3 linked regions of the Homo sapiens genome follow. The protein of the gene in region 2 purifies or fractionates together with the protein of the main gene of each other region. This does not show direct contact. Each region holds a gene or a part of one and is shown on either strand. Other genes may lie near its edges. The genes, in order: ETFRF1, NDUFAB1 and LYRM2.

Region 1 (3,752 bases), on a different chromosome or scaffold from region 2:
AAACAAAACAAACAAAAAACACCTCTTCGGAACCATGTTCTTTTCACATAATTTAAAATTAAATATACATAGATGTAATTTCGAATTGCAAACTATAACCTGTTTAATGCCTAACAGCACAGCTTCATTTAATTCACAATTTGTAACTTGTGAAAGCTTTCAGGGACCTGGCTTAAGTTGTCCTTTTTAGTTGTTGGTCTTTTTACAAATTATGTATCATAAAACACTTGCCCAGCAAAAATGTAACTAGTGTGGCTATGGCAAATTTGTTCTTCTTTGATATGTTAACTTATATGAATTAATGCAGTTTATCTTTTTTTTTTTTTGAGACGGAGTCTTGCTCTGTTGACCCGGCTGGAGTGTAGTGGTGCGATCTTGGCTCACTGCAACCTCCCTCTCCCGGGTTCAAGCGATTCCCGTCTCAGCCTCCAGAGCAGCTGGGATTACAGGTGCTGATCACCACGCCCGGCTAATTTTTTGTATTATTTTAGTAGAGACGGGGTTTCACTGTGTTATCCAGGATGGTCTCCATCTCCAGACCTCGTGATCCACCCACTTTGGCCTCTCAAAATGCTGGGATTACAGGCGTGAGCCACCACACCAGGCAATGCAGTTTATCTTTATGCAGTTGACCTTGAAGCATTTAGGTTTACTTTAGCCACTAAGAGAAATAGGTCTCCTTGGGTTCACAATGTAGTGAATAAACAATTTTGAGTTCAGCAGGGCCCTGAGGCTGCTCCTGAACTCTGCATGAAGTCATGGAGGTTACTGTTTTAAGTAAAGAGCCAAGAGTTAAGGACTAAGAGAAGCCCCCTATTATTCTGAAAACTTGGATGTGTGCGCTGGATGAGACAGCGGTTGCAGTCCCCATTGATAGTTTTTTCCCCCTGTCATTCTAGGCTAAGGAGTTAGGACTTAACCAGTTCCAGTTCCAGGCTAATGGAAAATTGTCATTTTACTGGGGGTTATGTGGTGGCCAAAGTTGTTAATCATTGTTCCCCATGGGGTAGATACAGTGAGAGCTTCAGTAAAGCCTTTCCTCTAAAAGCCCACTATTTTAAGGTAACTTGGGATTACTGAACTATCTCCTTACCCCGATGAATCCTAACTTGAGTTGACTGAGGTGTTTTATCATTAAACATTAGTTTTACTGAAACTAATTTAAAAGGAAGCCTTAACTTTCATATCAAACAGCTATGGTAAACTGAGTAAGAACTCTGTACGAAGTCGCTATTAAAATGTTTTTATCTTGCTACCAGGATATGGATGTAAAATGCTAATAACTATTACACAACCTATAATAGTTACAGGTTACAATAGGGATAATAACACTTTAACCCACAAAGACTAGCTTAGTCCTACTACTTATCTATGAATAATGCATGTAGTCAATAACACTGGAAGGGATAGAGCATTATAAACTTATAATTCAGAGATGAGAAATGGTGCCAGTAATTTAAAAGTATTTCAGGTCTCATAATGCTAAAACAGGGTGTAGGTATGCCCTACAATTACAGAGAACTCAGTCGGGCTTGAGGAGAACAGCCTCACTTAATTGTAGTTTTCCTGTCGGTGTAAGGTGCCGGCGTTTCTTCATGTGGGAGGAGACTGAAATTCTAAAGGTTGTGTGGTTAGTAAAATTAGTCTGTGACCTCGGGAAACTAATGAGTCTTTGGGGCCTCAGCGATCTTCATGTTAAGGAATATTTTAGCCAGGAATTGCTTCATTTTCAATTCTTGTTTAGGGCGCTCTTAGGAAAAAGGACGCGTACGCTGCACAGAAAGTAAACAATAGAGCAGAAAGAAGAATCCGAAGGTCATTAATCTTAAAATAACCAACCCTCTGGAGCCAACTTATTTCTCTCTTTAAATTGCGGAATGAGCCCCATCCCCCTGCTGGATTAAACCGCAGAGGCCCAGGCCTCCCACCGGGTGTCCGCTGCATGAACCAGTCGCATGCCTGTTTCCTTCTCGAAACCCTCACAGAAAGACCCAACACACTCTAGGAAATAAACCGTCAACGTCAGGAGACGCTCAGAACCCTCTTCCCACACCCGGTGGTCCTCGCCCAGAGCATATTTCGCCTCCAGACCCCAGGATCCGGGAAATGGAACAAAACTCCCCGGCGGCGGCACTCACGCACTTTCCGGCACGCCGGAGCCGCAAAAGCCTCGACCGCTACGACTCCTCTGTCCGTCTACTGCGAAGCGGGGTGGCGTTGGGGGAGGTGGGCAACCTGTCAGTAAAGGGGGCGGGGCGCCGGCCGGAAGAGCCTCCGCGCGGCTGCGCTCTTTTCCTGGAGCTCAAGTGGGCGGGGCCTGTCGTCCGGGCAACCCGGGAGCGTTTGTCCACACAATTTCTGCTCCGACTCTGCGGACTACTGCAGTGGAGCTTGACTCTTAATGGTGAGCAAGGCAAATGAGGCAGACAGGTGGAGGGGCGACCACTGATTCTGCTTCACCAGTGTTAAATAATGTAATCAAGAGCCAGTCATATTTTACAGCGAAGCGGGTCGGTTTGGGAAATAACTCATACCTTGGGGTGGGTCGGCCCTCTTCTCAGCAATGGCTTTCCTTACCTGGACCAGGCGGACAGGTAGGAGTCCCAAACCAGTTTCTGCAAACGGGAGATGGTCAAAGCTGTCACACGGTATCCTGATCTCGAATGTTGCTAAGCTTGAAAATTGGTCCCAACCTAGTAACTTTCAGTAGTGATAGACGTTCCCACTAAATTTTCTTATTGCAACTTGGCGGAAATGTTTTAGTACTTCTCCAGCAGTTAATTAAAAGCTAATGCAATTTACTCTGCTTTGAAAAAATATTTTATGTCGTCTTTTGTGGGAATATGAATTGTTTTGTGATTCAAGGTTCTCATCCTGCATTAGTTAAATATGATAAGGCTTCTCATTTTGTTTTTCTGCACTCCTCAACTGCCATGTTTTCAGCAAGGAGACAGGCCAACATGTAGCTATGAGAGTATCTCTGATTTTCTTAAATGTGGTTTCCATCAAGACATTTTCTATAATTAAAACCAGAGGAAGTGGAGAATGTAATTACTTATTTAATTCATTAATTAAGGGAAAAATGTGGAGTGCATTCTTTGTACTTGGCACTGGGCTAGAAGCCAAGAATACCAAGAAGAACATGACGACAACTCTGCTTATAGGATACAGATTAAACAAATTAATTACAATACAGCTTTACAACTGTAACAATTGAAGCATCTAAAATGGGGTAACACACAGTTGGAAATGATGAAATTTCAGTGAGGGGAAACAAGGGAAGGAGAGTGGTGCTTTTCAACCTGTTTTAAAGTATAAATACGAGTTTTCCACATATGGTGGGAAGAAATAGGGAGTGGAGGCCTGGCGCGGTGGCTCACCCCTGTAATCCCAGCACTTTGGGAGGCCGAGGCGGGCAGATCACGATGTCAGGAGTTCGAGACCAGCCTGGTCAACATGGTGAAACCCAGTCTCTACTAAAAATACAAAAATTAGCCGGGCGTGTTGGCGCGCACCTGTAATTCCAGCTACTCAGGGGGCTGAAGCAAGAGAATCGCTTGAACCTGGGAGGCGGAGGTTGCAGTGAGCCGAGATTGTGCCACTGCACTCCAGCCTGGGTGACAGAGCGAGACTCCGTCTCAAAAAAAAAAGAGAAAAAAAGAAATAGGGAGTGGAGAGCATTCCTGGCGGAATGCAAATGGACCTTAAGTCAATTTATAATTGCTAATAAATTGGGGGAACAGTAAGCACTT
Region 2 (3,752 bases):
ATCTCTTGAGGTCAGGAGTTTAAGACCAGCCTGCCCAACACAGTGAAACCTCCATCTCTACTGAAAGTCCAAAAATTAGCCGGGCATCGTGGCGTGTGCCTATAATCCCAGCTAATCAGGAGGCTGAAGTGGGAGGATCACTTGAACCTAGGAGGCAGAGGTTGCAGTGAACTGAGATCATGGCTCTACACTCCAGCCTGGGCGGCAGGGTGAGACTCTGTCTCCAAAAAGAAAAAAAAAAAAAAAAAAAAAAAGAAATGGTACGATGCCAGGTGTGGTGGCTCACGCCTGTAATCCCAACACTTTGGGAGGCCAAAGTGGAAGGATCGCTTGAGCCCAGGAGTTCCAGACCAACCTGGGCAACAAAGCAAGACCCCTGGTGAGGGTATATTCTATGTTCGTACACAACTACCCATGAGGCCAACTAGGTTGTCAGCATTGTCCTCAGCAGCTCCAGCAAGTACCTACAAGGGCCAGGTGGGCACCATGTGATTAAATTAAACGAGTCTCTGACTGGAGGCCACATGCCAATCTAGAGTGGGTGCTGCATCAGGATCAGCGTGAGGCAGTAAGTTAGTGGGCAAGAGCTCAGACGCTGAAACTAGACCACCTATGCCTGCACCATGGTGCTGGCTCTCACTAGTTGTTTGGCCTTGGGTGGGTTACTTAACCTTCTACATCTCAGTTTCCTCATCTGTAAAATGGGGATAAACAACAGTACCACACTCACAGGACTGTTGTGAAGCATCAGTGAGATGAAGTAAAGGCTTGGACATTGGCTGGCACTTAACACAGTAAGTGCTATTTAGGGTTATTTAGTAGGATCCTGAGAACAATGACCAGCAGCAGCTAGTTTGATACCTTGGCTGTAGCGTAGCCCCAAAATACTTGATCCTACTACCCTCTCATGCTCCTGCCTCTGGTCTCTTTTTTTTTTTTTTTTCAGACAGAGTCTCACTGTGTTGCCCAGGCTGGAGTGCAGTGTTGTGACCTTGGCTCACCACAACTTCTGCCTCCCAGGTTCAAGTGATTCTTATGCCTCTGCCTCCCAAGTAGCTGGGATTACAGGCGTGCACCACCATGCCTGGCTAATTTCTGTATTTTTAGTGGAGATGAGGTTTTACCATGTTGGCCAGGCTGGTCCTGAACTCCTGGTCTCAAGTGATCCACTCACCTCAGCCTCTCAAAGTGCTGGGATTACATGCATAAGCCACCACGTCCCGGCCTCCATTAATTTCTTATCAGCTCAGGCTATGATATTGCACTTTACACACATCATCTTTCTTCAGCTCTCCAGTATTCTGGTGAGATCCATGATACTATCACCCTCCTTTTTACAGATGAGAAACTGAGGCAAGGGAAGGTTAGGTATCCTCCTCACCCCATGTCCTTCCAGCATGGCCTCCTGGAAGGTCTTGCTGCTCCTTCTAACTGGATCTCTGTTGATTGGGAAAAAATAAAAGGGATACAAAATGGACAAGCACCTCCCCAACAGCCAACATGTGATGTTTCTGGTGTTAGTTGTTCTTCCCCAAGATCTACACTTAACAAGTATATGGGAAATAAACCACCTCTCCCAGACATCAGAGAAGGTACTGTTTGCAGGTAAAGAGTGATGACCCTCTGGGCTAGTAATTCAAACAGATGAGGTTCCATCAGAATCCCGGTACTCCACTGGGGCTCACTTCTGCCTGAGGCAAACTCAGAGGAGGCTAAGGAGAGGGCTTTAAAGGCCGTCTCTACAAACTGCCGACTGGTCCACTCTACACAGGCAGCCCAGACCTCTCAAACTCAACAGTTTGGAAATGAACTCCTGACCTGTCTCCAAAACTCCTGCTTACAGACCTCTGTTCCTTCTCCGCCACCTGGGGCTTATTCCTTCAATAAGCCCTGTTTCATGTTCACTCCCTATGACCTTTGCAGAGAATACCCACAATTCCTCGCTGCAGCATACAGCTCCCTTCATGATATGCTCACTCTCTTCCCCCCAACAATGTTCCCTTCCAGACACCCTAAGAGTCAACCACAAGGAGGTAAGTGCCAGGCTCTTCCTGGCCTCTGCACAGGCCTTCAAGATCACGTTCACTGAGAGATTGGTCAAGTATCTCTTTTTGCTTTTGCACTACACACACCTGTTTCACAATGCCTTGCCTTTATTTACACGACTGTCTCAGAAGCCTGGGAACTTTACCTGTGTGCCAAGAACTGTGCAATGGGCTGGAAATGCAAAGATGAATAAGACACAACCTTCCCCCAAAAGAAGCTTACACTCTAATGGAAAAGACCAATCCACAGATCATTTTAGTTGAAATAAAAATATGGCAAGCACCATGACAGAAGTATCTGTAGGCTGATGCAATAACAAAAGTTGTCACTCAGTCCTTGAGTGGCCGGAAAGGAGGATGCCAGACTTGGATTTGGTGAGGAAAAGAGCTGAGACTGATAATTCAAGGAGAGGGAAGAACAGGTCAAGAAAACGAAATGAGGTCAGGCGTGGTAGCGCAGGCCAGTTATCCCAGCTAGTCAAGGGACTGAGGCAGAAGGATTGCTTGAGCCCAGGAGTTTGAAGCTGCACTGATATATGATCATGCCACTGCACTCCAGCCTAAGTGACAGAGACCTTGTCTGGAAAAAAAAAAAAAAAAAAAGTCATGAAAGTGCAGTGCCTGTGTCTATGTGAGAAGACATCAGCTCATGTTGGGAGATGGTACACAGATGACAGGCTTGGAGGCTAAGAGGGAGGGCCCAGGTCTGCAGAGCCTTAAGGGCCATGGGAAGGGACTGGGACTTTGTCTGGTCCTGGTCCCAGTCCTGGAATAGCTAGCTTTTTTTTGTACAAGTGCTGTCTTCATCTGCGTACCATGCCCCATAGAACTGCTGGAAATTATCTTTGTGCTCCATCTGCTAGACAGTGTAGATTCGGGGCCTACCTGGATCAAGTATAAGACTTCCAGGCTGCATTTTAGGCCATTGCCCTTGGTTTTTGTTTTTTTGTTTTTTCCTTACCTTCTATTTTATATCATCTGGTATTTTTATACCCAGGAAAACTGCCTTAGCTCCTTTTGGGAAAAAGGGTGTAAATGAGTGACTAGTTGCTCTGAAGTTGGCATAGTGGATGGATTTGAGGAGAGGAAATTTCACAGCAGGGAATAGGTAGCATGAGCAATGGTCCAAATGAGATGAACAAGGACTGGAGGCGGAGGTCTGGGATATACAGCAATAACAGAAACCAGGAGTGAAGAGTCCAGGGAGCATGTGTGGTAAGAGAACTCGGGAGCCCACCAACATTTAAGGGTTAGGCACACCAGGTGTGATGGCTCATGCCTGTAATCCCAGCACTTGGGAGGCTGAGGCAGGAGGATTGCTTGAGCCCAAGAGTTCACAACTAGCCTAGGCAACATAAGGAGATTCCGTCTCTAAAAAGAAGACAGACATCAAAAAATTAGGGGTGGTGGCTCATGCCTGTAGTCCCAGCTACTCAGGAAGCTGAGGCAGGAGGACCATTTGAGTCCAGGAGGTCAAGGCTGCAGTGAGCCACGATCATGCCACTGCACTCCAGCCTGAAAGGCAAAGTGTCCCAACAAGGTAGGAGGACAAACCAACCAAGGGAGAACAGTGTCACAACAGCCTAGGGAAGAAGACAGCAGCAGAGAAGGAGCCAGCAAGTTGGACATAAGGGCTGCAAAGCGTTCAATGAAGATGTAAGCTAATGTCTTCCTTTTGTATCCATCTCTGTATCTCTCAACAGCTAG
Region 3 (3,701 bases), on a different chromosome or scaffold from region 2:
GATGTCACAAGATCCAATATATCTTATGATAAAATTTATTGAAAAGTCAGTTTATTTAAATAATGAATAATTGGCTAACAGCTCTGGAAACAATGAGATCAAATGAGAAAGATTCAAATTGTTTGTTATTTTCTGTATTTTCAGTCAAAAAATCAGTTATATAGTGATTTTAAAGCAGATTAATGGAAAAAAATTCATGTAACAATTACCTGAAAATTTATAACCTATTCCTAATCAAACCCAATTATATCAGAATACCTTTCTGAATTTGAGATTTTTGCTCTACATTTTATAATGAATAAGGCTATTTTTTGAAAGTATTTCATTTTGAATTCTGTCATTAACCTCAAAAGCTTTCTACTGCTTTGCGGTGAAGGCAAAATATTCGATAACTCAACTTAGGCCCCACTGTTCCCCAACTTCATGGAGGCCAGAAGACTTTACTTTGTTCCATAATGAAATATAAACACAGAACAAAGTTGTAAAAGTAGCATGGATATGTTGAAACTTTGGACAAGCTTCTTGTCCTTTGGAATATGGGATTTATATTCATCTCCTCAATATCCCATGTATGCACAGAAACTTCAGTTCTATTTCTATAGACACAGGAACCTAGTGACTATTGAACGTAATTGTAATAAAATGCTGCTCATTGAGCCAAAGAGAAGAAATGATTTATTAACATGGGGACACCAAGAAAAACAAAGTATGCTTTTATTCCCTTTGTCAAGCTCAGTTTTAGGGTTTTTTCTTTTTTTTATAGTGACAATCCATAGATATAGACATTCCTAAAAGAAAAATAATTCAGTAGATATATGTCACTGTTACCTGAATATGGAATGAATTTGATGTTTTTTATTTTGTTGAGACAGGGTCTTGCTCTGTCACCCAGACTGGAGTGCAGTGGCATGATCACACCTCACTGCAGCCTTGGCCTCTCAGGCTCGTGATCCTCCTGCCTCAACCTCGCAAGTAGCTTGGGACTACAGGCGTGTGCCACCAGTCCTGGCTAATTTTTTGTAGATATAAGGTCTCATGATATTGCCCAGGCTGAATTTGATGTTATTTCAAGTTGATTTTCATGTGTTTGGGAGCTTGTCTTGTTCTCAACTACTACGCAGGTAGACAGTCTTCCCCCAGAGACTCATTAGATTGCAATATAGAGGCACTTTCTCATTTCCCTATTGTTCCTAATACAGAATTGTAGAGCTGGAGAGTACCTTCAGTTTTCTAAATCTATTCTCAAACAGGATATCACTAACCTCTTTAGAATCATTCCTCAGTATACATCAATTTATTGAGAACTGCCTAATACTCAAGAAATTAAATCCTGAGTTCAGTAGGCTGTGTTCCAAGCAGGAATTATTTTCACTTACCAAAATATCTCCTATTACCTCAAGGTATCCTTGTTGAGGAATGCTGAAAACTAAATTTTAAGTATCAAGTCTAGACCATAGAGTGCTTTGGTGGGAGTATTTTGATTACCTCCTACCCATCAGAAGCAGGCAGCTAATATTGTGAACTGAGTATTTTTGTCAAAAGTCACAGGGAAGAGACTACAGAAGAATGAGAAGGGTCAAAAGGACCTAGTGTGGCTTACTACATGGATCTTGTCTCTTGGAGGTCTGTCGTAGAAGAAGAAACAAATAGAGGTGATGAAGACACAGAACAGGCTCAGTCAGCATCCTCACCCAGAGATGGCAACATCTATTAAGACCAATGCAATACCTTTTCATCTTCAGCAAATGTTGTTTCATCTGTTTTTGATCCTTGGCATTGTCAAAAACTTAACTGCAGGTCCAGTGTATATTTTTCCTTATTTTTCCCTTTTAGCTATCTGCTAAAGTGAGTAAATGCCACAACTGTACTTTTCCAAAGAAAAAGAACTATTGACAACTTATAGCCTGTCATGCAGGTCATGTTTCAAATCAAGGCTGAAATTTTCAACAGCTGTGGGAAAAACTAAAACACAGAAATACTGTACAGTATTAGTGTTTTTTTAAAGAAATTGTTAGTGCATTATTGAGTATACTAAATATCTGTGATTAAATAAATTAGTTCTAACTTTTGATTTTGGGAGCCCAAAATAAAGGGAGTGTTGTTTTCATGGTTATGCCTTGTTTGTGGAGTCAAGTGTTGATATACTTGAGGCATGTTATGTGTCTTCTAATTAATATTTTTATCACCTTGAATTTGTGTCTCTTCCAAGCATTAAAGATACTATGGATCTTAAATTCCTTATTAAAAAAATGCAAGTGTGAATACTTTGTTTAGCTTACATTTTAATTTATTGTGGTTGACCACATTTTATGGCTCCTGAGTGCCTTCACCCAGCTACACTTTACCTTGTATCTATAAAAGTGTAATTTAGAGTAAATACATTGGCTGTAAAGTCGCGATCAGGTGCTCTCCACCAAAAGCAAAACAAAACTGCTGAAATGTGGCAAGGTTTCTCAGTGCAAGCTTAAATGTTTAAACTGTTGACCATTTGGAAAATACTGGACAAAGGGGAAGGACAAAACATCATTTGCAATAGTTAAAGGTTATGCAAGGCAAGGCAACATTATACTTTTTGACTAAGTTATTAAAAGTTAAATGCATTTCTTCTTTGAAGTGTGGATTATAAAAGCCAATCAAAGACAAAACCAGTTTGAAAAACCTTTTGTATTCTACAATACCTTTTATGAGTAAGAGTAAAACATACATTTCTTATTTGTAATTTTATTTAAGGAGAAATACTCTTTCCCTTTGATACGACTATAATATTATAAACAGCAAGGAATATGTTCTGCTTTCTGCAATTTTAGAAAGTCATTCCATTCTGGGTGACAGAATGAGGTAAGACTGTCTCTTTAAAAAAAAAAACAACTCACACCTGTAATCCTAGCACTCTGGCCACCGAGGCAGGTGGATTGCTTGAGCCCAGGAGTTTGAGACTAGCCTGGCAACAAAGTGAGATTCCCCCTCCTCTCTCTGAAAAGTAAAAAAAATTAGCCGGTCATGGTGGCACATGCCTGTGGTCCCAGCTAAATGAAAATCTGAAGCAGGTGGATCTCTTGAGCCCAGGAGCTCAAGGTTGCAGTGAGCCATGTTCGCGCCACCACACTCCAGCTTGTGCAACAGAGACCCTGTCTCAAAAAAAAGTCATCTGTGTGTTTCTTGCAGGCACATCTATGGCAATGCTTGTACCATGAATTTAAAACTTCTAACTTGATGGCACTTTTTTATTTTTTTTGAGACAAGAGTCTCACTCTTTCGCCCAGGCTGTAGTGCAGTAGTGTGTTCTCGGCTCACTGCAGCCTCTGCCTCCCGGGTTCAATATGAGGCAGCCCTCCTGAGTAGCTGGAATTACAGGCACGTGCCACCAGGTTAGGCTAGCTAGTGGCCTAGCTAGTCTCGAAATCCTGACCTAAAGTGATCCACCCACCTCAGCCTCCCAAAGTGTGTGGATTACTTGTGTAAGCCACAGTGCCCGGCCTTACCTGCTTTAAAAAACAAAAAAACTTAGGTTTTCTTGGAGTCTGTGCTAGTTGAATCTTGCAAATGCAAACCACATACGCTCTTTAATGAAAACCTTTCCATGCACACCACTGTTAGGAAGAGCATCATTAAATCACTGACTTCTACACCCATAAAAGGATGATTTTGAGTTTCAAGATTTTAGATTTACTAGAGATAGCATGTATCTATCAATCATGTCA

The links.
Region 1: the proteins of NDUFAB1 (region 2) and ETFRF1 purify together in Homo sapiens (affinity purification with mass spectrometry; 4 studies listed by BioGRID and IntAct, with this or other methods). This does not show direct contact.
Region 3: the proteins of NDUFAB1 (region 2) and LYRM2 purify together in Homo sapiens (affinity purification with mass spectrometry; 5 studies listed by BioGRID and IntAct, with this or other methods). This does not show direct contact.

Annotation. Positions count from the first base shown.
Region 1 is NC_000012.12:25,193,728-25,197,479, reverse strand, and holds the start of ETFRF1 (electron transfer flavoprotein regulatory factor 1), read right to left. Parts: upstream 2,244-3,752; 5' UTR 2,143-2,243; exon of another isoform or gene 2,139-2,142; intron 2,127-2,138; exon of another isoform or gene 1-2,126. Other genes in the region: DNAI7 (dynein axonemal intermediate chain 7), read left to right, coding at 2,418-2,594. UniProt on the Homo sapiens protein: Acts as a regulator of the electron transfer flavoprotein by promoting the removal of flavin from the ETF holoenzyme (composed of ETFA and ETFB).
Region 2 is NC_000016.10:23,589,712-23,593,463, forward strand, and holds part of NDUFAB1 (acyl carrier protein, mitochondrial precursor), read right to left. Parts: intron 1,440-3,752; coding exon of another isoform or gene 1,382-1,439; intron 1-1,381. UniProt on the Homo sapiens protein: Carrier of the growing fatty acid chain in fatty acid biosynthesis.
Region 3 is NC_000006.12:89,631,572-89,635,272, forward strand, and holds the end of LYRM2 (LYR motif-containing protein 2), read right to left. Parts: 3' UTR 653-3,701; downstream 1-652. UniProt on the Homo sapiens protein: Involved in efficient integration of the N-module into mitochondrial respiratory chain complex I.